Homo sapiens: one gene and its partners. The protein of the gene in region 4 purifies or fractionates together with the protein of the main gene of each other region. This does not show direct contact. Each region holds a gene or a part of one and is shown on either strand. Other genes may lie near its edges.

Region 1 (3,500 bases), on a different chromosome or scaffold from region 4:
AGGGCCCCCTTCCTCCCCAAGCCATCTCTTACCCCACAAACCCCCAGAGCCTGACCCAGCTGTTTCTCCTCCTTGAAACTCAACTCTCCTCTTGGCTTACAAGAGACCTGGAAGCTCCTGGTTCCTCCCCACTCCCACCAGTCCCTCTCGGACTCCTGTGTATCCAGCTATTTCCTGGGTCTGTCCGCCATCCCCTTCCCCACAGATGCTTCACACATACCCGAGATGAACCAGGTTCCAACTCAGTTCCTGTGAGCCCCACCCCAAAGTGTCCACAGACAGGAGGAACTCAATGTTGACTGAATACATCGATGAATGAATGATTTATCCTCAACAAAGCAAGCCCTTCAGCCTGGTATATCCTGGCACCACTTCCAGCCTCTCCTTGTCCTATATGACCCCCTAGGCGAACCTTCCCAAGCAAGGCCTCCTGCTCTCCTCCCTGCCCCTTGCATATTCCAGGTCATCTCCCACTTCTAGGCCTCAGCTCCTGCCCTCCCATTCGCTAGCTCAGCCCATCGGATGGCACCTATTTCTCCTTAGCCTGGGAGGTGCTGGGAAGGCTGGCTGGCTCCAGTCACACAGCCAGCAAGTCCCTGCTAGTCACACCCCCATTTCTTGCCAGATTCCTGTCCCCAGCCTGTGGCCCTCTGGCTGTGCTGAGCCTGGGGTAGCCCACACCTGTCTGCCAGCCCTCATCCCCTTCTGTGGCAGAACACAGGGCAGGGCACACAGGAGGTTGCCCTAAGCTGATGAGGGTGCAAGCAGGTGGCTGGACCATACTTACTCTGAGTCTGGCGACAGCTCCGAGATGCTGTGAGACGTGGCAGAACGTGGCGTGGAGGGCCCAAGCACAGAGGCTGTGGCAGAAGGTGTGGCAGTGGTGTGAGGGCCCAAGGGTGTGCTTGAAGATTGCACAGAGGAGAGGGCCGAGGAGTTGAAAGAGGCAAGGATGGAGGAAAGAATGTCCAACTGTTCTGTGGAGGGGCCATGGCTGGGGCCACTGACCGAGTCCTCCCTAGCTCTGAGCAGCTGCGGGAGTGGCCCAAGGGCTTCTCGTGAGGGGTGCCGGCTAGGCACCTGGTCCAGCTGCTCCCGAGAGTTCGAGCTCCTAGACAGAGAGTCCAGCGGCCGGGATGGCAAGAGGGGGTCCCTTGAGAGTTGCCGCTGGGGAGACAGGGGCAGAGGTGGGGGCTGTGGGTCAAGGTCCCGGGTGCGGCGGGGCGGAGGCAGCGTGCTCAACCACTCTCGAGGTGCCCCTAAGTCGAGCGCATCCCGTGACCCGAAGCGGCCAGCCATGGCGCCAGGGTAGTCCCGAGGTGGCTGCCTCCGTGGCAGGGTGCTGCCCCGATCTTTGGGCTCCAGTCGGCCTGGTGCAGCATCCATGCATTCCTGGGACCCTGGCCGGCTCAGGGGACGTAGAACAGGGGCAGGGGCTTCCTCTAGTCGCTCACGGCTCAGTTGCCGCCGGAGGAGCAGGTCCAGCTGTTCTCTAGAAGAGTAGCGGCTGGCTGGCTGTGAAAGGCTGCCCGTGCCCCCGCCAGCATAGATGCGACCGTAAGAGGCAGCTGGCACAGCACGGTGGCCCAAGGTGGCTGCACGGCACCAGGACAGCTCAGGGGCACCTCGGGTCTGTGGCACCAGTGGGTATTGCAACCGGTTCTTCAGGATGCCTGTGAGAGGAAGAAAATGGGGGGCAGGGTTTGTGTGGGAGGGGGAGGGCAGGCAGGAATTGCTGAGTCTAGGGGTGTGGCAGCCCTTGGGATCCTTCCAACACAGGGATGGGAGCAGGAACCCCTTGGGGAGCAGCAGAGGCAACCCTGGTGGTCCCAGAGAGGCAGCAGGACAGGGGTCAGAGTGGAAGGGCAGTCATCTTCCAGTTGTGGTCCCGGGGCAGGGGGAGGGCGGGCAGGTCTCATGGTGCAGGGGATGGGGCAAACTCCCTGAGGTCAGAAGAGGGGCAGCCCTCAGGTCCTGACAATGCAGGCCTGGCTGAAATGCAGGAACCCCCCGGGTTGGACAGGAGCAGTCCCCAGGTCCCTGTGATGCAAGGGTGAGGGCAGAAACCTCTTCTCCGGGTCCCCATAAAAGCAGAGTAGGGGGCAGAAATCTTCCAGATCAGAGCACGGGCTCTGGGATCTGGGTGGGGGGCAGGGGGAAGCAGCTCCTAGGGTCTCTGAAAAACAGATGGGCTGGGGCAGGAGTGGTCGCCTGTGGTCCCCCTGTGGTGCTGGCCAGGGTAGAGGGGGACAGAGAATTCCCAGGTCAGGACAGGAGCAGTCCCTGAGGACCGTGAAGCAGGCTAGAGAAGCAGAAGCGCCCTAGGTCAGAGTAAGAAGAGCTCTCAGTTTGGGATGAGGAAGCTGCAATCCCTTGGCTCAGGGCATGAGCAGCCCCCAGCGTGTCTGCGGTGTGGGCCAGGGCTCAGGGACTGTACCTTTCCTCTGGCGCTGGGCCCGGCCCAGAGAAGTCTCATCCCCACTGGTCAGGGCCGGGTCTGGCTGGTTGTTGTTAGCTGCATCCTTGCTGGTGTCCAGCCCCAGGCGCCTTTCAGAGCCCCAAGTCTGCAGAGCACAGGGGGCTGCCTCGCACTCCCCCAGGGCTGGCCAGTAGGACAGGAGGTCATTGCCATCCACATCTGTGGAGCCAGGTCAGGTTACAGGAGCTTCTGGGTTGATCCCAGTGACTCATGACCCCTGACCCTAATGACCCTTGAAACCCTGGCTGTTCTCATTGAGCAGAGGTGGGAACAGGAGGGTATCTCCTCAGAGATCAATGGGTGGGGGTGACTGGTGAGCTCCCTCCCCTTAACTGGAGGTGGACAGAGACTAAAAGTTGGGGAACCTGATGACTGAGGGGTCAGAAAGACCAGGATGAACCCCAACCGCAGGAAAGATGGGGAGCTGGAGGGATAACAAATGGGGCATCCCTTGGTCACCCAAGGGGTCAGAGGGCGCCTGGCACCTTTGGGGTGGGTGAGGAGCCTCTCACTCTGGGCTGCTCGGCAGAGTGGCCGTTGGAAGCGCCCCCGCGTCCGGCCATTGTCCTCGCTTTCTGAAGATGGAATGGAGAGACTCCTCTCCTCCTCCAAGGACAGGTCACTGTCAGAGTCGGAGTCTGCGCCTGGAGTTGGGAAAGTCAGAAGTACTTTCAGAGGTAAGGGACTTGGAGATAAGGGAATTTGGAGTTGAGGGTCTAGAGGTGGGTACGGCAAGGGGGTTAGGGTTGGGGACAGGAACCGGGGCTTGAAGTGGAGGTAGCAGCAGAAGGGCTGGGACTTATCAGAGGGAAGGACGAATCAGGAGTGGACTGGGAGAACCAGGGCTGGAGAGGTAGGTGCCTCCTGAGGCAGGGACCCTGGGGGAGATCGTCCCACCCCAGTCAGCCACTGCTCCCAGTATGGGGTAGAAGAAAAGGGGATGGGGAGAGATCCTCTGCCTCCCTCCTCCCTGCCCCAGGCCCCAACTCCACCAGCATCTCGATGGAACATGGCCACGTCC
Region 2 (3,500 bases), on a different chromosome or scaffold from region 4:
AGTCAGGCACTGCATATCTCTCTTCCTTTTTATATTTAATTTGACCATTTGCCATGCCCACTATTTGAGTGGGTGTGGACGGGGAGGTTGGGAATAAGGAAGAGATGGAAGAGGAGACTAATAGAAGATGTGCTTTTCATTCAGATTTGTTTCTCTTTTCCTTCATTCATTCCAGAAACTTTTATTAACTCTACTGTGTGCAAGATACTGTACCAGGCTAGCTGGGAAGACAAAACACCTTAGGCATGCCCTTACCCTCCTGGGGTCCTTGCACTGTCTGGGGAGGCAGGATTCTGGTTGTCTAATGTCTAATGTGGTAAGCGCTGTGAATGTATGCAGTGTTATGGGAAGGGAGGATTTGTCTGGGGAAGGGGCAGGGAGGGCATCCTTTGGTCTAAAGGGGAAGTTGGAATGAATTATTCAAGTGGAGAGGCCAGGGTAGTAGTGTTAGAGGCAAATGAAAGAGCATGCTTGACCAGAGAGGATAGAGCCTGTGTGCTTAGAGCTGTCAGCGTTTTGGCCATTGTGCCAAGATCAGTGGAAAGACATTGCAGATTTTAAAAATCAATGAAATATTTTATACATTATAAAATACATGTAAGATGTAAAAATGGTATATTGAACACACATATTCACCATCTAGCTTAAGAAATGAAACATTACCTATACCATTAGCGTCCCCTGCTTACCCTTTCTAGTCTTATCGTTCTTCTCTCTGCTTTTTTTTCTTCCTCGCTTCTTCCCAGGAGTAACCACTAGCCTGAATTTTCTATTTATATATTTTTTGCTTTTCTTTCTATTTTTACTACATATGTATGCATCCCTAAGTCATGCATAGTTTTGCATGATTTTGACCTTTGGGTAGTAAGAATCAGCATGGATGAATCTCACATAATGTTGAGCGAAGATGCTAAGTTGGAGCTACATATAGTGTGAAACCACTGAAAGGCTTTGCACAGGGGAGTGACATTTAATTTGTATTTTCTAAAGATTACTTTTTATGCAGTGTGGATAATGGATTGGAGGTAAACAAAAATGGATGGGGAGAGCAGTTAGAAGGATGTTATAATCTAAGTGGTAACTTATGGTTGATGGTTGTAACCTCTTAAGAGAAATCATAGACAAATTCTTAGCCATAGCCCTTTAGGATCTTATCCCTCCCAGCTATTCAACCTTGCTCTTCCCTGAATCTGGCAAGCTTGTTCCCTGTTAAGGTCTTTCCCTGTTCTCTGTAACCTGAGCCTTTCATCTCGGGTCTGCAGAGTTCAGTCTTTAACTGCACTCAAGTCTCTGCACAGAGAGGTCTTTCCTGGCCATTTTGTTGAGAAGTGACCCCCTGCCCTTGTCATTATTTTCTGTTCTCCTTACTCTGCTTTTTCTTTGTAGTTTTTAAAAAAATTGCAACTTGAAATTATACATTTATTTATAGCATGTTTGCTGCTGCTAAAATATAAGATCCATGGGGGCTGGTCTTATCTAAAATTGTAACCTCCTTTCCCCCCGTGCCTAGTACATAGTAGGTGCTCAATAAATATTTGTTGAATAGATGAGTGAATTGATTGAAGTTGGGATAATGGAATTCATTCTTCCCTTTTCAGCTGTTTCTCAAACATCTCTCTGGCTGTGAACTTTTTTCAGAGCTTGAGGTTAATGCCCAAACCCTGTCTTGCTGTCACCTCAAACTCAGTATATATAAAATTACATTATTTTCCTTCCTCCAGTCTTTCACTTTTGTTAATGCTGCCATCACTGACAGTCCTCAGGCACAAAACCTTGGTGTTATCTTGCAGTGTTCACTACCCCCGATCCCTAGGGTGCTGTATATTCCCATTTATGTGTTTGAGGAAGTTTTCTGGTTACTGTTTCACCTCTGCTTTTTGCCTATTGACATTTTAGCCAGCCCTCAGGGCCCTGCCTCAGTCTTTCTCTTCTGAGCACGAAGCTGAATTTCCATCCAAGCACCCCTTTTGTACTTATGTTTATAGTTTGTTTTGTTTTGTTTTTGAGACAAGGTCTTTCTCTGCTACCCAGGCTGGAATGCAGTGGCGTGATCACTGCTCACTGCTGTCTTGACCTTGACCTTGTGGGCTCAAGCCATCCTCCCACCCCAGCCTCCTGGGTAGCTGGGACTACTGTTATAGGTCACCACACCTGGCTAATTTTTAAAATTTTTTATAGAGACGGGGGTCTCGCCATATTTTCCAGGCTGGTCTCGAACTCGTGGCCTCAAGCGGTCCTCCTGCCTCGGCCTCCCAAAGTGCTGGGATTACAGGCATGAGCCACCGTGCCTGGTGTAATTACTCTTTTTTTAAATTAAAAAAAAAAACCCACACAGTCTCCTGATCTGTTAGTTCCTTTCCCATGTCCTAATATTTTAAACATAGTATTGAGTTGCCTTTCTTTTCTTTTTCTTTTTTTTTTTTTTGAGACAGGTTCTCACTCTGTCACCCAGCTTAAAGTGCAGTGGCACAATCTTGGCTCACTACAACCTCCACCTCCTGGGAGCGATTCTCCTGCCTCAGCCTCCTGAGTAGCTGAGACTGCAGGTGCCTGCCATCACACCTGGCTAAATTTTATATGTTTAGTAGAGACGGGGTTTCACCATGTTGGCCAGGCTGGTCTTGAACTCCTGGCCTCAAGTGACCTGCCCGCCTTGGCCTCCCAAAGTGCTGGGATTACAGGCGTGAGCCACCACACTCAGCCTATTTCCTTCTTTATGATCCCATTTTTAACTTCACCACCATGTGTGTCCTATCTTTAGCTCTGTCATAGAGACCTAATGCTTGCTACTTGGTTGTGCAACAGAAGACAGCTGACAGCAACAATGCCATCAGCATGGTTTTCTTACCTTCTATCTTTGATGTTGATTCAGGCTGGATTCTCTTGAGCCGGTGGAGGCTCCTGCAGTTTTAGAAGGTGAGTAGTCATAAGGTGTCACCTGCTGCATCACACTGGAAATGTGTGGAGGCAGTGGAGTCTGAGCTGATGATGAGTATTTACTTAGTAGTTCTCTGTACCTACCTAGCAGTGATTCAGGTTGTAAAGAAAAATTTAATTGGTTAAATTATTTTAACCAATGTTTGAGTGCCTATTTTACTGTGATGAACATAGATGTACAAGATGTTTTGCTCATTAGGAGTCTCCAAAATCTAGCAGGTATGTGAGTTATGTAACATTCTTTTTAGTAAATAAAATATGGTAAATGCTGAGTTAGAAGTAGGTGTGAGCTGCTGTTGAAGGCAGCATATGACTCATTGAAGGACTTATCAGGGGAGGCTTATTTCGTAAGGGATGTAATGGGGCACGTCTTGATGGATAAATGGAAATTCACAAGTGGAGAGGGGCTTTAAGATCTGTGTATAGGTAATTCATGAAAACACAGTGGAATCAATCTAGGCCCAAATGTAGCTCCAGTAAAGGGTGAAACCAGCAGGGGTAGAGCTTTAGTTCCTTGATATCATGGCTTAAGGTAGCCAAGAAGTTCTGATTCAACAGTGCCC
Region 3 (3,500 bases), on a different chromosome or scaffold from region 4:
AAGGATTAGGATAGTTCTATACCTTTTGCACGCATCTTGAGACACAGGCAGAAATCATAGTTGTGGAGGTGCCAGGATGAATTGTCAGGGAATGTAAAGTAATTGCTACATCCTGAATTGGGGATCCAAGCAATGGTCCTAGACAAGGGAAAAAAATTGTATCATACTCTGCTAGATGTGAAGTGAGAAGTAACTGAGAAGTGCAAAGGAATAGGGAGAAAACACTAACAAAGTTAGGAAAAAGACTGAAATAATCTGTAATATAAGGAGTGATTAAATGGTTGAGTGGGATACTAATGCTTACTCTCATTTGAGTGTCTTACCTTGGAGACATGCGCTGTGAATTCCATTTTCAATGGCCTCTTGGGAGACCTTCAAAAGGCCTTCATTGATACTTTCAGCATACTCAAACTCAATCACAGGCATAACAGATGATGTTTCAATTGGCCTTGCTTCCACTTCTACAGTCACAAGATGCCTTTTGTCTCCTAAAGTTCTATCTAAGGTATCTGTAAACAAATTGAATATGGCACCTCAGAGATTAATTCTGGAAAGGTATCAAGGTACTATAAACAGCAAAATTATCATCAACAAGCTCAGGGTCTCATACAAGATAAAGTGGGAGAGAATATTAACAATGGCACTAAATACAGTATAAAAATCAGAGTAAAGAGCTCTACCAACAAAGCATCTGCTTCTGTGTTGATCAATGTTAAAAACCTGCTCTGTATCACCTATTGTTTTAACATTAAGATATGTTGAGGCACATGTTACGAAGATTATACTTTTAAACTTTTCAAAATGTCTTGTAGGTGATTGAAATCCTCTTAGTTACAAACTTTTATATTAAAAAAATTAAATGATAAAACCTTTACAAATATAAAAGGTAAGCTAATGAAAATTAAACGACTTTAAATCCTGACAACCCACAAAATGTTTTATATTGTGTATTTTTCCAGCAATATTTTATGCACTTACTGTTTACAATTTCTTTCCCAAAAAACCAGTAAAGTGTTTTTGGTAAGATTGAAAACAGCATCTCTTATTTGCTAAAAACCAACAATCTCCAATATTTTACTATGTCTGTTACCAATCTCCAATATTTTACTAAAACAAAACTATGCCATATTTATGTGAGGGACCATGTAATGCAGTGATTCATGGCCCAAATTCAAAACTAAGAATTATAGTCTATAATTCTTCATAATTCCTTTGTATGCTTACGTTTTATACTGTGAAACATTTTCTATTTAAAATTATACAGGCTGGATGTGGTGGCTTACACCTGTAATCCCACCCAGCACTTTGGGAAGCCAAAGTGGGAGGATTACTTGAGGCCAGGAATTTGAGACTAGCCTGGGCAATATAGCAAGACTCCGTCTCTGTAAAAAATAATAAAAATTAGCTGAGTATGGTAGTGCACACCTGTAGTCCTAGCTACTTGGGAGACTGAGGCGGGAGGATTGCTGGAGCCCAGGAGTTCAAGGCTACAGTCAGCTAAGATCTTGCCATTGTATGCCAGCCTGCTCAACAGAGCAAGACATTGTCTCAATATATACATGTTTATATATAAATATACGTTTATATATGAGTATATACATATTTATGTACAAGCTAAAAATGAGCATTCATGAAACCTAAAACTACTAAAGAGAGTATTACCAATATTTAGATGCCTTCTGAAGCAACCACTATCATATGTTATCCTCATTATTTTCTTTAGTGTTATATCACATATGCATGTATTTCTAAGCAATAGTTTACTTCTGCTTCATTTTAAATTTGTTATGCCATATGTATACGGCAACTTTTTTGTTCTATGTGTTTGGGAGAGTCGTCTGCACTATTTTCCGACTCCAGCCCTACTCCCCAACTTCTAACAGTCAGCACTTGGCATTCCACTATGAGGAAGACCCCTCCCTCTTCTTCCCTATTTACCTATGTATTATTATAAGTATGAACTTAGAAACTATTTTTTCCCAATGGTCTATACTTGGTATTCAAATTAATCCAGATTTGGCCAGCAGAGTCTCTTCAAGCTGGTTCCTGTGTCCTTATATACCCCCTCACCATCATTTTTTGACCATTTCCTCTCTCACACATAGCATGATATTCCATTATCCTTTCTTATGTTTTATTTCATTTTTAATTAACAAATAATTGTATATATTTATGGGGTATGTGATGTTTCAATACATGTATACATCGTGGAATGATAAAAATCAGGCAAATTAACATCTATCATGTCAAAAAACTTATTTCTTTGTACTGAGATTTAAAATATAAATTATTAACTATAGTCACTGTGCTGTGTAACAGATCATGAGAACCTATTTCTCCTGTCCAGCTGAAACTCCGTACCCCACTTCATCAACATCTCTCCTTTCCCCAGCTTTCCAATCCTCAGCCTCTGGTAGCCATCATTCTACTCTTCTACAAGTTAGACTTTTAAAAGTTCCACATATGTGAGATCATGCCCATCGCACCTATTTTTGATCGTTTCTTGTTCCTTACTAACACAAGTGGCCCTTGAATAATGTGGGGGCTAGGCGTGCTAAACCCCCATGCAGTAAAAAATACATGCCTAAATTTTGACTCCCCTGAAACTTAACTACTATAGAATACTGTTAACAGGAAGACTTACCAACAAATAAACAGTCAATTAACACGTTACATGTATTTTATATTGTATTTTTACAATAAACTAGAAAAAAAAGTTACCAAGAAAATCGTAAGAGAAAATATATTTACTATTTATTAAGTAAAAGTAGAACATCATAAAGGTCTTTATCCTCGTCATCTTTGCACTGAATAGCCTGAGGAGTAAGAAAAGGAGGGGTTTGGCTTGCTGTCTGAGGGATGGCAAAGGCAGGACAATAATCCATGTGTAAGTGTACCTGCATACATACTTTAAACCCATGTTGTTCAAGGGTCAACTGTACTTTCTATCGCCTCTCTTATTTCTTCAAAGATAGTATTTTATATTCTACATCTCATAATTCCAATAACTGAAGCCTTTGCTGGTATGACTACCTATTGTTTCTATTGCCTTTTTGCTCATTGTGCTTTTTCTCATGGTTTTCTGATTTAATTTTATTATGAGTTAATATTCTTTTATGTGTGGGGGTTTCTTTTTTTTTTTTTTTTTTTTTTTTTTGAGATGGCGTCTCACTCTGTTGCCTGGGTTGGAGTGTAATGGCACGATCTCAGCTCACTGCAACTTCGCCTCTGGGATTCAAGCAATTCTCCTGCCTCATCCTCCTGAGTAGCTGGGATTATAGGCACTCGCCACCATTCCCAGCTAGTTTTTGTATTTTTAGTAGAAACGGGGTCACCATATTGGCCAGGCTGGTCTCGAACTCCAGACTTCGTGATCTGCCCACCTCAGCTTCCCAAAGTGCTGGGATTACAGGCGTGAGCCACCAGACCTGGCCATGTGTGGCATCTGAGGCCTGGGTTGATGATATCTTTGGAGAAGCCCTTTTTTCCAGGTTCCTTGG
Region 4 (3,500 bases):
TTCCATTTCCAAGGACATTCTAGAGATGAGTAATGATGGGACTACCCATGGTCCTGAAACCCTGAAGATACTGAGCAGCCTGGCCTGGGACTGGATGTTTCAGCAGAAATAACACAGGGGAGACCAGAATCAAGCCTGGAGGTCAGTTCAGTCATCAGGCAGTGGAGGCTCAAGGTGGGGCAGTTTTTTGCAGGTGTTTCATGATGACTTACTTGAACCAGTGACCTCTAAAGATAGAGCAGAGTGCAAGGAATGATCTAGAAAGAGTGAAGGCGACAGGCAAGAGCTGGTGGCTTTGGAGCAGAACTATGTTGCCTGTCCTGCGTTCAAGTTTCCTCTCCTTCTGCAGAGGGCAGGTGAGGACCATGTGGATCTTTCCAGAAATATATGTGGACATTTGCAAATGCAGCACTGACTGGTAGAAAGGGTGGGAAGGATCTGCTGGAAATCTGGTCCTCATGGACCATGTGTGTTTGATGGATATGAGACAAATTTGAAGAGAAGTTTTGGGAATATTTTCTTTCACTGGACATTCTACTCTCTGATTCCCTGGATTCGACTACTCTAGGGACCTCATGTAAGTGGATTCCAGAGTGAATATGAGAAGAGACTGCTGGTTGCCAGGAGCTGGGAGTGGGGAGAATCAGAAGTTGTTCATGGGTGTGCAGTTTCATTTATGCAAGGTGGGGAGGTTCTAGAGATCTGCTGTAGAGCTTGATGCCTATAGTTCACACAAATTGAGTATTTCTTATGCATAAGACTTAGGACAAAAAGTGTTTTGGATTTCTGACATTTTTTGATTCTGAAATATTTGTCATATACTTACTGGTTTAGCATCCCAAATCTGAAAGATTCAAAATCTAAAATGCTCCAGTGAGCATTTCTTTTCAGCATCAGATTAGTAGGCAAAAGTGGGAGGTGATAAGCCAAAGATATTCTTGCCCTTTTTTTTTCTCTCACCACTTTTCTAGCTTGGTGATTAGTTTTCGGTGAATTCCATACTGGCCATGCCTCACTCGTATATTTTTGAAGGCTTTGGGATGTGAAGCCTTTGAAGGCTGATTGCTATTTTCTATGTCATCAGAACTTTCCACCTTTTCATGGTTGCCTCTTTTTCTCAGTGTATCTGTTGTGGCAGTCATTAATAAGAGCCTGTCAGGTGAGATTTAGGACAGTGTTTTCTAATTCTGCAAAAAATGTTACTGGGATTCTGTTAGGTGTTACATTGAATCCGCAACTCACTTTGGGAATATTATCTTTCTAACAATATTGATTCCTCCAATCCATGAAAATGAAATGTGTTTCCATATATTGATATCGTCTTTAACTTGTTTCAGCAATCTTTTGTAGTTTTCAGGGTATAATCATTTGACTTTTTGGTTAAACTTATTCCAAAATATTTTATTCCTTTTGATGTTAATGTGAACTGAAATTCTTTCCTTAATTTCCTTTCGGATTGTTCATTGTTAGTGTATAGTCTAAAGAATGATCTAGAAAGAGTGAAGGGGACAGGCAAAAGCTGGTGGTTTTGGAGCAGAAACATATTCCCTGTCCTGGGTTTTTGATTTTCCCTCTCCCTTTGCAGAGGGCAGGTGGCTCTTCCCTGATAACTAGATAGACTTCACTGGAAAACATAGTGCCAATGCTCCAGGGATCCACTTACCAGGGACTATGATCCTCTTGATTATGAGATTTGTTCCAGCAGTGGCTGAGTTATGGATGAAACAGACATAGACCCCTCTATATGTTTTAGTGATTTGGGGGATAAAGAACACTTGTGCTGATTGCTGGAACTTCCCATCAATCAGCCAAGAATGCTCTGCCAGTGGGTGAGAGTCTGTGAGGCAGGAGAGCTTGGGGACTTCCCCTGTATGGTAATAGGTGTATGAGGAGGAAATGGTGGGGGCATCCAGGCCATGTGGAGCAAAGAGAATAATGTCACAGGCGATATTTTCAGAGGGAAGGGAAAATCTCGTCTGTGGAAGCACCACAATCACAGTGACCCTGTGAGCCAAGTCACAACATTGAAGTCCCAGCCAAATCCCAGCTGTGTTCACTGATCTGGAGCCTGAGACATTCACCTGTTTCTCCCATCACAAGCTGTGGACGCTGAGTCTCCCATGACAGGAGCAGCCTCTTTTCTCCTATTGTTGATCAAGCCTAGGCCTACTCTGGTTTGCCTGGGGCAGAAAGTCATGGCCAGGTTTGATGTCCAGGGGTAAAGGTCTCTGTACTTGGACCTGAGAGGGACTGAGAGGCCTGGTCTCTGGCCACGTGTATTTGGGATGGCAGCCTGGCTCACAGAGGAACAGAAAATACTCACGGAGGAGATTCAGGGTGAATGGGTCACTGCGGCTGGCACTCACTGGGTTCCGTATTTCACATTCATAGGGTCCTGCAGTGTACTTTGTGACACCCAATAGAAAGAGGGTCCTGTTGGTTTCAGACAACTGCAACCTGTGAGACATAGGGAGGCTCTGACCATTCATCCACCACAGGTAGCTTGCGTCCGGAGTCTCAGGATCACAGGTTAAGCTCACAGCCTCCATGGCCTCCCTGGGGTTTAATTTGCTGCTGGAGATGGAGGGCTTGGGAGTCTCCACTGTGCAGAAAACAGAGAGAAGATTGCCCTGTGTGGCACCTTTGATTCCTCCAAAGGCATTTTTCAATCAGAGTTGGCATTTCCCACCTCTCAGCCCACCCAAGTCCTTAAAAGCCCATGGCAGGTGTGTGTGTTGCAAGACAGATGCAGGGCAATCTGAGGGCTCAGAGGTTGTGAGGCTGCCTGCTTCATGTAGAAACACAGACTTTCTCAAGTGTGAATTGAGCAGCAGCATTGGGTCATGGAAAGACACAGGACCAGCAGTCACAGCCCCTGTTGCCTCTCTGAGTCCCTCCGTCTCCAACTGCCTGCCTGGCCCACCTTGTGGTCCTCACTTGGAGCATGCAGTGCTGGAATCTTCTTAGTTTCAGTCTTACTTTGCCGCCCAAGGTATGTTTTCTCTGCAGCTTCCCTTGCCAAGGACATCCTAGAGATGGGTGATGGAACTTCCAATTGTCTTTAAACCCTTTGGGTACTGGAAAGCCTGGCCTGGGACTGGGTACTTCAGCAGAAATAACACAGGGGAGAACAGAGTCAAGTCCGGAGGTCAGTTCAGTCATCAGGCAGTGGAGCCACAAGGTGGCGCAGTTTTCCCAGGTGTCTCATAGTGGCTGACTTGAGCCAGTGACCTCTAAAGATAGAGCAGAGTCCAAGGAATGACCTACAGAGAGTGAAGGGGACAGGCAAGAACTGATAGCTTTGGACCAAGACCACGTTCCCTGTTCTGGATCCATGATGCTCCCTTCCCCCTGTAGAGGGCAGGTGAGGACCATGTGGATCTTTTTGGAAATACATGTGGATGTTTGCAAATGCAGAACCGACTGGTGGAAAGGGCGAACATGAACAGATGATGGAAGTCTGGCCCTCATGGACCATATGTGTTTGGTGGATATTAGAC
Region 5 (3,500 bases), on a different chromosome or scaffold from region 4:
ACAATGGTATCTATGTATCTAAGCATAGAAAAGATACAATAAGGATACAGTATTGTAATCTTATGAGACCACTATTATAAGTGCAGTCCGGAAATGTTGTTAGGTGCATGCCTGTATATTAATGCAGGGTTAATATGAAGGAAATTTGGGGAAAAGATGGGAAATGCTTTGAACTATTTTGGATTTTGATAATCAGTACCAACATAGTTCTTTGACTTACATTTGACTTCACTCATTTTTGAAGTACATGTACTGTGACTGTAACAGATAATTCAGATTTCATTAAGATTTGAATTCAGATATTATTTTGTGATTATAGTATGACCCAAAGCCAGTGTGATTTATAACCAATCGTTTTTGTTAAATTGTGTGTACATCTTGAGTATCAAATATATAATATGATCCTTTTTTTTTTCTTTAGTTACCTAGATTCAAGATGAATAGCGATCAAGTTACACTGGTTGGTCAAGTGTTTGAGTCATATGTTTCGGAATACCATAAGAATGATATTCTTCTAATCTTGAAGGAAAGGGATGAAGATGCTCATTACCCAGTTGTGGTTAATGCCATGACTCTGTTTGAGACCAACATGGAAATCGGGGAATATTTCAACATGTTCCCCAGTGAAGTGCTTACAATTTTTGATAGTGCACTGCGAAGGTCAGCCTTGACAATTCTCCAGTCCCTTTCTCAGCCTGAGGCTGTTTCCATGAAACAGAATCTTCATGCCAGGATATCAGGTAAATCACTTAAGGATTTTACTGCCATGCTATCTTCTAGAAAGATTTTGAGAAAATATACTAGATTTAGAACACTAAGAAATAATTGATATTTATACTTAAAATATATATCTGTTGTGTAGTTGATGGTCACTTCTTTTAGAGCAGAATAATAATTGTGTTCTGTGGGCATGAAGTATGAGTCTTGCCCACTGAGGGGAGGGAGAATGTGTGGAGACAGCAGTATACTTGTGTGTCTATATATTTCCACGTCTGTGTTTAAAAATGTAATTCAAAACAGCTTTATGAGCTTTTGTGGTTACTAACAATAAAGGAACTGGTAATACAAAGAATTAGAAAAGTGATAGATCTTGTCCAGGGATCTTCAGAACTATTTTAGGACATTAGTTATTTTTAAAGATCAGTATTAGCATTGTGCAGTCTACCTACCAGTTACTCGATACATTTTTGTTGAATGCATGACAGATAAAGCATCTTAATTGTTAAGAAACTGCAGTGGAGCAATCAGCAGCTTGGGGTGGCAAAGCTGTATCCTTGAATTCCTGCCTCTAGGAGTCCTTGCCCCTCACTTTCTGTTTTAAAAGTGATTTTTTAGTAGGATGGATAGAGTTGACTTAAGAATTTTAGGGAAAAGTGACACTATAGTGTAACAATTTTTATTTAGTTCATTGCATGGAAGTAATTTCTTGGAAGGCATAGTGTGGCGAAAGAGAAGAATTGGATTTAAAGGCTACACGCCTAACCTGGGAGACTTAGTAAGTTATTTTATCTCACTGAGCCTCAGTTTCTTCACTTGCAAACCACTTCTAGAGTCCCTGTCAACCCCCTAATTAAAACAAAATTTAACTATGCCATTATTGTATAAATTAATAAAGGCTGGTACAAATTAATTCTATTTACATGAAAGAAAGATTTGGTAAAATTAAAAGCAGGTCCAGAATATTGAGGGCAGTCTGTGATTAAGTTGGAGAACATACATACCCTTTTGTTTAAAAATAAATATTTAGCAGCCGGGCGCGGTGGCTCACGCCTGTAATCCCAGCACTTTGGGAGGCCAAGGCGGGCAGATCGCAAGGTCAGGAAATCGAGACCATCCTGGCTAACACGGTGAAACCCCGTCTCTACAAAAAATACAAAAAAAATTAGCCGGGCATGGTGGCGGGCGCCTGTAGTCCCAGCTACTCAGAAGGCTGAGGCAGGAGAATGGTGTGAACCCAGGAGGCGGAGCTTGCAGTGAGCCGAGATCGCGCCATTGCACTCCAGCCTGGGCAACAGAGCGAGACTCCGTCTCAAAAAATAAAATAAAATAAAATAAATAAATAAATAAATAAATATTTACCTTATAGTACATTTGAGAAGAGTGGTGATTTATAATCAATAAGAATGCTTCCTGAATTCCAAAAAGGTTTGGAGTCACTATAGTAGAACTTCTTGGAGGCAAGTTAAGATTCCCAAAAAGACCAAATACTTAATTTAAATGAAAAATATTGTCTGCAGTTACACTTGCTAGGATAAATTATGAAGAGTATTAATCATTATGCATCAGGGTACTAGATAATCTCTTGATGGGATCAAGAAAAAGGGTCCCCCCCATCAGCCTTTTTTAAAAATTAGAGATGGAGTCTCACTCTGTTACCCGGGCTGGTATTAAACTCCCAAGCTCAAGTGATCCTCCTCCTCTGGCCTCCCAAAGTGTTGGGATTATAGATGTGAGCCATCGTGTCTGGCCAATGTTTCCTATTAATAAGTTTGCAAAAGGATTATTAAGGGGGACTTTAGTTAATGTTGTCGAAATGCTATTTAGGAAATAGTTTTAGGCTGCCATTATTTTCAGATACCTTTCCATACTGAGTTTAAGTAATACAATCCTGTCTGCCTAAGTGACCCTATCAGTTTCAGGTGAATTTAGCTTATTTTTTCAATTCTCTGAAAAAGTAAGTTACAAATTATGTTACTACTGAACAAAACATCAGTAGGCATTTGCTAGGATCTTGGGAAACCAAAAAGAATATAGTTTTTCCCTCCTTTAAAAAACTCAGGGCTGTATGGCAGACAGCTATATAGTCAAATATTTACCAGATGGTGTATGCATGCCTACAGATACATGTGTATGTATATATTAAGCATTATTGTATGGGAGCTTAATGGAAACTTTTATGTGTGATGCATGCCTCACTCAAGGTATGTTGTTTTTGTTTTTGAGACAGAGTCTTGCTCTGTTGTCCAGGCTGGAGTCCAGTGATGCAATCTTGTCTCACTGCAACCTCTGCCTCCTGGGTTCAAGCAATCCTCCTGCCTCAGCCTCCCAAGTAGCTGGGATTACAGGCATGTGCCACCATGCCCAGCTAATTTTTGTATTTTTGGTAGAGACAGAGTTTTGCCATGTTGCTCAGGCTGGTCTTGAACTCCTGGCCTCAGGTGATCTGCCCACCTTGGCCTCCCAAAGTGCTGGGATTGCAGGCATGAGCCATGGTGCCCGGCCAGAATTAATGTTTAAATAGCGCTTGCTGTATGCCGAGTAATATTTTCAGAAACTTTACATGTATGAATTCTTTTTTTTTTTTTGAGACAGGGTCTCACTCTGTTGCCCAGGCTGGAATGCAGTTGCACAACAATCATAGCTCACTGCAGTCTCTAACTTCTGGGCTCAAGCGATCCTCCCACCTCAGCCTCCTGGGTAGCTGGGACTACAGGCATGTGCCACCACACTCAGCTATTTAAATTTTTTTTTTTTTTTGTAGAGGTGGGGTCTCTGTGTTG
Region 6 (3,500 bases), on a different chromosome or scaffold from region 4:
TTTATTTAATAAACATTTCCATAGCATTTAGCATGTGCCAGATAGTTTTCGAAACACTTTACCAATAACTAACTCATTTAACTCATGACAGCTCTATGATGAAGGTTTATTATTATTTCCATTTTACAGATGGGAAAGCTTAGGTGCAGAAAGGTTAAGTAACTTGTTCCAGGTCTTACAGCTGGGAAGCTGCAGATTTGCGATTCAAATCCAGGTGGTTAAGCTTTAAATGTTCACCATGCTATGTTGTCTATCATATTACTTTATTTAGTTTCAGGTATCACTAAACTGGATCCTATCAAGCCCTTCCATAATTTTTGTAAGTTAAAAAGTTTTATTGGAACACAGCCTCATCCATTCTTTTATAATAGACCATGGCTACTTTTTTGGACAGAGGCATTGTTGTGTAGTTGCCACAGAGATCTTATGTCTGGCAAAGCCAAAAATATTTACTGCTTCTCCTTTACAGGAAAAGTTTGCTGGCCCCTAGTTGGTTTGATTCACAGGCCCAGTCATCAGCTGAAGTTGTTTATTTGATTGCTTGTTTATGACAGTTGTAGTAGGTTTAAAGGCACCATGAGAGCAAGGCTCTTTCTTGTTTTGTTCACCTCTGTATACCCATTTGCTAACGTGGTGCCTGGCACCAAGCAAGTGCTCAAAAAAAATTGAATAAAGGATCATTATTCAGTGGGATAGCAAAGTGCTTTGTAATTATACTTAGCCCTTGACCCTTTGTTTTTTTTTTTTTTTTGTTGTTGTTGTTGTTGTTGTTTTGGCTTTTAAAGGAAATTTGTTAACAAAGTTGTCTTCATTTTGATCTCTAGGTTTGCAGGTTGCTATGTTAATGTTGTTTGTCTTTGGAGTCTTACTTCATGAAGTCTCACTGAGTGGTCAGAATGAAGCTCCTCCTAATACTCACAGCATTCCAGGCGAACCTCTGTATAACTATGCCAGCATCCGCTTGCCAGAGGAGCACATTCCCTTCTTTTTGCACAACAATAGGCATATTGCCACTGTCTGTAGGAAAGACTCTCTTTGTCCATATAAGGTAGGTATTATTTCTTTTCTCCTTATTTTTATGAGGATGCAATTTCAGCTGGCTTACAGGTTCTGCTTTATAACCTGAAACTGAAGGCAGAATTCTAATTTTCGGTTGTCACTGTATAAGTTAATCATTGTTTCATATAATACTTCTAAGTGACTAAACTGCTTAAAATTATGTCCCATTCATAAGAGAGAAATTTAAAATCTAAATCACTTCTAAAACAAATAAGTAGCCAATACTATTTGTAAACTCTGTAAAGAAGCAATTAGATTTTATGCAGGAAAGAACATCTTGTTAAAAGTAACTAAAGAATTTCACACCTCTTCTTTCTTAAACGGCACATGAGAGGATCGGTTAGCACTTAATTTCAGTAATAACACCTCAGCCTCTGTCTCCACATAATTAAGCCTGTTACTGTGGCTTTCTTTCTGTTTTAGAGGAGTTGGAAAGGCCTCAAATAGGAGCCCATTAAGACATCTCACAGGGCCCCAGAGATCAAAGCTGGGCATTGTGAGACACTTCCTTTCCCATGGTGCTGGCACAGGAAGCATATGGAAAAGCAGACTTGGGAATCAGACCAGCATTGCTCCTGGGGCCTTGCAGAAGAGCATTCTCAACTCCTTGGCCAGCAGCAGCTGGGTGGTTCCCAAGGGTGGCAGAGTTGTCCATGTGTTGTGGGGTCTCTGCTGATCTTGATTGCTAAGTGAAGTTGCTGATTGATTCAGTTTAGCTGTGATTCCTTTGGTAGCACAAATTCCAGTTTATATGTCTTTTAGGGACTGATTTTAGAATCCGCTTGCTCACTGAGAAAGGTGGTTTCTTAAGCTACTTCAAGAAATTCAAATTCAAGTGGTCTTTGAGCGTCTAGGTAAAGCCCAGACTTTCGGTTAGGGGACCGATATGGTGGGGGTGATGAGTAAGGAGGATTGTTAAGAACCTTGAGACTGCTCTTTTTAGAATTAACTGTAAGTTTTAAATTTATTGTTATAAGAATACGTATTATAAATGTAAATGTGAATGCTCTATAATGATTTGTTTTCTTAATGGAAAAATCTAAGAGTCTTCTCTAAATGTCAGAAGAAGGGAAATCAATGTAAGTTTTATGTTCTAGAAACACCTAGAGAAGCTAAAGTACTGCTGGGGTTATGAGAAATCCTGCAAACCAGAGTTCAGGTTTGGTTACCCAGTTTGCAGCTATGTCGACATGGGATGGTAAGTTTCCATATGGAATACCCTCTTCAAGTCTTCCTCTTTCTATACAGTGTATGTTGATGCCCTAATTTCCAGCTAGATTCTTTTGGTTTTAGATAGTAATTCATTTAGATATTAATTTGCTTGCACAGTCATGAATTCAACTTGACTATTTCATACTGGGATAGGAATATCTGTCATTTCCTCTGCCAGAGGGAGAAACAGCCAGGACCATAGATAATTTTTTCCCCCAGTGTATAGTAAGAAGATAAATGGATGGTTTCTTCTTGATTCTTCCTGGGAGAATTAAGTATAATTAGTACTTCCAATACATGCAATGTTAATGAGGTAAAGAAAATATAGTAATTAAGAATGCATCATTGGCTTCAGTTTCAGGTGATAACTTCATACATGTCTGTTATGTATTTTATGATAAAGGAATAATTCTGTGAATAACTTAGTTTCGTAACTTCATGTAGTGAGGCGTAGTTTTGGAAAAACTATGATAATATACTGTAACAAAATTAAAGTAATAAGGAACCTCTAGCATTTTAACCTTTAGAATGAAAATTCAAGGTCCAAAAAAGTAAAAAGAAAAAAACACAGAATATTTTTATTTGCAAATAGGACGGACACTCTTGAGTCAGCTGAGGACATATTTTGGAAACAAGCTGACTTTGGATATGCCAGAGAGAGGCTGGAGGAGATGCATGTGCTCTGTCAGCCTAAGGAAACGGTGGGTATTTTGCTCCTTACTAAATAAACTTGTTTATTTAATTTTAATTTTATTTATTTTTGAGACGGAGTTTCTGTCTATTGCCCTGGCTGGAGTGCAGTGGCGCGATCCCAGCTCACTGCAACCTCTGCCTCCCAGGTTCAAGGAATTCTCCTGCTTCAGCCTCCTGAGTAGCTTGGATTACAGGCGCGTGCCACCCCCCCCCGCTAATTTTTATATTTTTAGTAAAGGTGGGGTTTCGCCATGTTGCCAGGCTGATCGCGAACTCCTGACCTCAAGGGATCCACCCACCTCAGCCTCCCAAAGTGCTGGGATTACAGGCGTGAGCCACTGTGCCCAACTAAGCTATTTTATTTTTATTACTTATTATTGATTTTTAATATTTATCATTTAGCTTGTAATGTAAAAACAAGATAGACGGCACTATGAAAGGAATTCCTCACTCTCACTTAGTTATTGGCATAGAATTTTATGTAACTTCCCCAAATAGGTTGTTTTCTTTCCTTTGGAAACCCTGTCCTCCTTATC
Region 7 (3,500 bases), on a different chromosome or scaffold from region 4:
GGAGATCTCCATTTGAGGGCAAGGAAGTGGGTGCAGACAGGTTGCTGGGTTATGCATGGACCTGTGTAACACTGGCAGGGTAATGGTGCTTGAGTGGTGCCGGCATAGGGGTGTGTGTGTATGTGTGCATGTGCATGTGCATGTGAGCACACATGTATCAGTATCTGCCAAATCTCTGCATATGGGCAGCATGCCTCAAGCAGGTCCCTGGCCCACAGAGTGAAATGATCCCCATCCCTTCCTCCCCCAGACCTGTGCACACCGATATGAGGCAAGGCAGCGAGTGGACCAGATCCTGGAGACGCGGGATATGATTGGTCGCTGCTTTGTGCTCAGCCAGGACCTGGCCATCCGGGATGAGTTGGATGGTGGGGAATGGAAGTTCTGTGAGGGACGCCCCCAAGGCCATGAACAATTTGGGTTCTGCCAGCAGGGCACAGCTGCCGCCTTCTCCCCTGATAGCCACTACCTCCTCTTTGGGGCCCCAGGAACCTATAATTGGAAGGGTGAGTCACTCCTCGGGAAGGGGAGAAGGGGACCAAAACCTCCTCTTACCTCAGAGACAGGGTTGGGGATGGCACATGGCCAAGCATGACCACATGTGCACTGCTGTATGGCCCCAGGGCACTGCCATGCCTTCCACCCCATTGAGCTAGTGCACACATGAATGGGGGGTGCCTCCTTTCCCTCGCACGGCCAAGTGTTCCTCAACATGCTGGCATGGGCCCCAAGTGCACGCTGGGCCTGCAGCTGGGGCCTGCATGCTCCAACACACTAGCCCACACCTCATCACTGCCATTCCCGTCTCCGCACGCTGCTGCTGGCTGAGCTGACACTCGGTGAGTGTGATGCCACATCTGGGGGACCCCAGGAAGCCTGGGTTGGGGACAGGGTGGGGAGAGGGCTAGAAAGAAGAGGCAGGGCTTCCCCGTGTGCCTGTCTAACTCAGTGTCCGGCCTGAGGGGTGTTCCTTGCGCCCTGCCCTGGGCACTAACAGGTCTGTCCTTGCAGGCACGGCCAGGGTGGAGCTCTGTGCACAGGGCTCAGCGGACCTGGCACACCTGGACGACGGTCCCTACGAGGCGGGGGGAGAGAAGGAGCAGGACCCCCGCCTCATCCCGGTCCCTGCCAACAGCTACTTTGGTAGGGACCTCTCCCCGGCCCAGAACTGCTCTAACCCTCTGCTCCTCTCTCTTGTCCTCTCTCTCCATGCTCCCATCCTTCTGTCTCTGTTTCTGTCTCTCACCTTGTCTCTCTCTGTCTTTCTGTCTCTGGCTGTGATCTCTCTGGTCTCTTTTTCTCTCTCCACCTCTTCTTCTTCCACCATTTTCTGGCCTTTCTGTGGCTCTGTCTCCCTACTCTGTGGCCCCTACTCTGGATGTCCCCTCCCTGGTGTCTCACCCCACCCCCCACAGGGTTGCTTTTTGTGACCAACATTGATAGCTCAGACCCCGACCAGCTGGTGTATAAAACTTTGGACCCTGCTGACCGGCTCCCAGGACCAGCCGGAGACTTGGCCCTCAATAGCTACTTAGGTTTGTAAGCTCCCACCTCCTGGACTCTAGGGGCATGGCCCAGCCTCCCCTCCTTCCCCAGGGAACTCGACCTTTGGTGCCTTATAATCTCCTCCTCCCCCAACACACACCCAGGGAGACATACATTGGGCCCAAATTGCAGAGAAGAGCTGGGTCCAATGATCAGGCCTAAGAGGAGGAGGCCCCCAGGGTGGTGGCCTCTGGGGCTGTGAGCCAGGGGTCTCCATGGAGGAAGATTCAGGTGGAATGAGAGGGCCAGGGCTGAGGATATTTTGGGAAGGACAGTCCTGTCTTCTAGGGGGACTTTCCCTGAGGGGATGGATGGTGGGCACATATTGAAGAAAGGGCTAATGTTGTTGGTAAGTCCCTCTCGTTGTCTCATCTGCATTCCTCTGCAGAGGAGGAGGAAACCAGGCCTGGGAGATGTTTGGGTGAAGCAGGCGCTCTCTCACTCCCCCTTGTCTCCCCCTCATCCATGTGAAGACTTCCCCTCCCTGCCAGGATGAGGGAGTTGGGGGAAAGAGGTGCACTGGGTGGGATTCGGGCCTGAGAGGGACCTCTAGCTCTTCTAGCTCCCTGGGTGTGGGCAGGGTGAGGCCACTGTGCTCAGCCTCCTACCTGGGCTCCTGGCCTTCTCAGCCATCACCTTTCTCTCTCTTGCCCAGTCCCTGAGGCTGACCTCACTGCACTTTTTGTGCCAAGCTTGTCTCTGGGCCTGGTGGGTGTGGGAGGCTGCCAGGCCCTGTGGGGAGGAAGAGCTATCCAGCTGTGGTGCTGATGACTTGGGGGGACCTATCTTTTGGCTCTTAACCTAGGGGAGGGGGCAGGGTGCAGGGGAGCTGTGACTTGGCTCTTAACCTGTAGGGAGGGGGCAGGGGCTGGGGGAGCTGTGACACACCCCAGCTTCTGAGTCTTGGGGTGAAGACTTAGGGGTAAGTCACCCTTCCCCCAGGCTTCTCTATTGACTCGGGGAAAGGTCTGGTGCGTGCAGAAGAGCTGAGCTTTGTGGCTGGAGCCCCCCGCGCCAACCACAAGGGTGCTGTGGTCATCCTGCGCAAGGACAGCGCCAGTCGCCTGGTGCCCGAGGTTATGCTGTCTGGGGAGCGCCTGACCTCCGGCTTTGGCTACTCACTGGCTGTGGCTGACCTCAACAGTGATGGGTGAGTGGGTAGAGGGCCGTGCCACCTGAGGGAGGCTGGGTCTAGTAGCCCCAGTCTGGCTGAGGCCACTTAGCCTCCTGCTGGCTCCTCTGGCCAGGGAGGACCCACACTGAATGTTTCCCTCTCTCCATAGCTGGCCAGACCTGATAGTGGGTGCCCCCTACTTCTTTGAGCGCCAAGAAGAGCTGGGGGGTGCTGTGTATGTGTACTTGAACCAGGGGGGTCACTGGGCTGGGATCTCCCCTCTCCGGCTCTGCGGCTCCCCTGACTCCATGTTCGGGATCAGCCTGGCTGTCCTGGGGGACCTCAACCAAGATGGCTTTCCAGGTGTGACGGGGAACTGGAAAGGCTCAGGGAGGGAGGGGCCACAGGAGGGATGGGGAAGCCCCTCAGAGGTCAGGGTGTGGTCTTCTGAGGACTCAGGGAGAGAGGGTCCCTGAGCTTATGTCTGAGCTGTACCATTTACCAGCTTTCTGACCTTGGCAAGTTCCTAACCTTTTTGCGTTAGTAATATCTGCAGGGAGTGGCCAAGAGGATTAAAGATGATGTATGTAGAGTGCCTGGGATTTTGTAGCCTCTCAATAAAATAGAAAACATACCTGAGTGACTGGGGGGAGTTGAGGCCTGGATCTTGTCTGCAAGGCCCCCAGCCAGCGTGACTGCCTTTTCCCTGTGCCCTGCAGATATTGCAGTGGGTGCCCCCTTTGATGGTGATGGGAAAGTCTTCATCTACCATGGGAGCAGCCTGGGGGTTGTCGCCAAACCTTCACAGGTGAGGGGAGTCGCTGGGATGAGGGAATGGGTG

What was found.
Region 1: the proteins of PSG8 (region 4) and CELSR3 purify together in Homo sapiens (affinity purification with mass spectrometry; 2 studies listed by BioGRID and IntAct, with this or other methods). This does not show direct contact.
Region 2: the proteins of PSG8 (region 4) and PEX7 purify together in Homo sapiens (affinity purification with mass spectrometry; 2 studies listed by BioGRID and IntAct, with this or other methods). This does not show direct contact.
Region 3: the proteins of PSG8 (region 4) and GFM2 purify together in Homo sapiens (affinity purification with mass spectrometry; 2 studies listed by BioGRID and IntAct, with this or other methods). This does not show direct contact.
Region 5: the proteins of PSG8 (region 4) and MCM9 purify together in Homo sapiens (affinity purification with mass spectrometry; 2 studies listed by BioGRID and IntAct, with this or other methods). This does not show direct contact.
Region 6: the proteins of PSG8 (region 4) and EOGT purify together in Homo sapiens (affinity purification with mass spectrometry; 2 studies listed by BioGRID and IntAct, with this or other methods). This does not show direct contact.
Region 7: the proteins of PSG8 (region 4) and ITGA7 purify together in Homo sapiens (affinity purification with mass spectrometry; 2 studies listed by BioGRID and IntAct, with this or other methods). This does not show direct contact.

The regions. Positions count from the first base shown.
Region 1 is NC_000003.12:48,638,887-48,642,386, forward strand, and holds part of CELSR3 (cadherin EGF LAG seven-pass G-type receptor 3 precursor), read right to left. Parts: coding exon 3,472-3,500; intron 3,124-3,471; coding exon 2,965-3,123; intron 2,639-2,964; coding exon 2,438-2,638; intron 1,674-2,437; coding exon 788-1,673; intron 1-787. UniProt on the Homo sapiens protein: Receptor that may have an important role in cell/cell signaling during nervous system formation.
Region 2 is NC_000006.12:136,839,592-136,843,091, forward strand, and holds part of PEX7 (peroxisomal biogenesis factor 7), read left to right. Parts: intron 1-3,500. UniProt on the Homo sapiens protein: Receptor required for the peroxisomal import of proteins containing a C-terminal PTS2-type peroxisomal targeting signal. Specifically binds to cargo proteins containing a PTS2 peroxisomal targeting signal in the cytosol.
Region 3 is NC_000005.10:74,725,618-74,729,117, forward strand, and holds part of GFM2 (ribosome-releasing factor 2, mitochondrial), read right to left. Parts: intron 510-3,500; coding exon 324-509; intron 139-323; coding exon 23-138; intron 1-22.
Region 4 is NC_000019.10:42,755,679-42,759,178, forward strand, and holds part of PSG8 (pregnancy-specific beta-1-glycoprotein 8 isoform a precursor), read right to left. Parts: intron 3,264-3,500; exon of another isoform or gene 3,029-3,263; coding exon of another isoform or gene 2,938-3,028; exon of another isoform or gene 2,924-2,937; intron 2,603-2,923; coding exon 2,324-2,602; intron 1-2,323.
Region 5 is NC_000006.12:118,928,660-118,932,159, reverse strand, and holds part of MCM9 (DNA helicase MCM9), read left to right. Parts: intron 1-421; 5' UTR 422-436; coding exon 437-740; intron 741-3,481; coding exon of another isoform or gene 3,482-3,500. UniProt on the Homo sapiens protein: Component of the MCM8-MCM9 complex, a complex involved in the repair of double-stranded DNA breaks (DBSs) and DNA interstrand cross-links (ICLs) by homologous recombination (HR).
Region 6 is NC_000003.12:69,007,185-69,010,684, reverse strand, and holds part of EOGT (EGF domain-specific O-linked N-acetylglucosamine transferase isoform a precursor), read left to right. Parts: intron 1-824; 5' UTR 825-838; coding exon 839-1,048; intron 1,049-2,156; coding exon 2,157-2,257; intron 2,258-2,863; coding exon 2,864-2,972; intron 2,973-3,500.
Region 7 is NC_000012.12:55,697,905-55,701,404, reverse strand, and holds part of ITGA7 (integrin alpha-7 isoform 2 precursor), read left to right. Parts: coding exon of another isoform or gene 1-26; exon of another isoform or gene 27-55; coding exon of another isoform or gene 56-79; intron 80-250; coding exon 251-506; intron 507-518; exon of another isoform or gene 519-839; intron 840-1,011; coding exon of another isoform or gene 1,012-1,143; exon of another isoform or gene 1,144-1,378; coding exon of another isoform or gene 1,379-1,415; coding exon 1,416-1,535; intron 1,536-2,487; coding exon 2,488-2,695; intron 2,696-2,828; coding exon 2,829-3,022; intron 3,023-3,378; coding exon 3,379-3,467; intron 3,468-3,500. UniProt on the Homo sapiens protein: Integrin alpha-7/beta-1 is the primary laminin receptor on skeletal myoblasts and adult myofibers.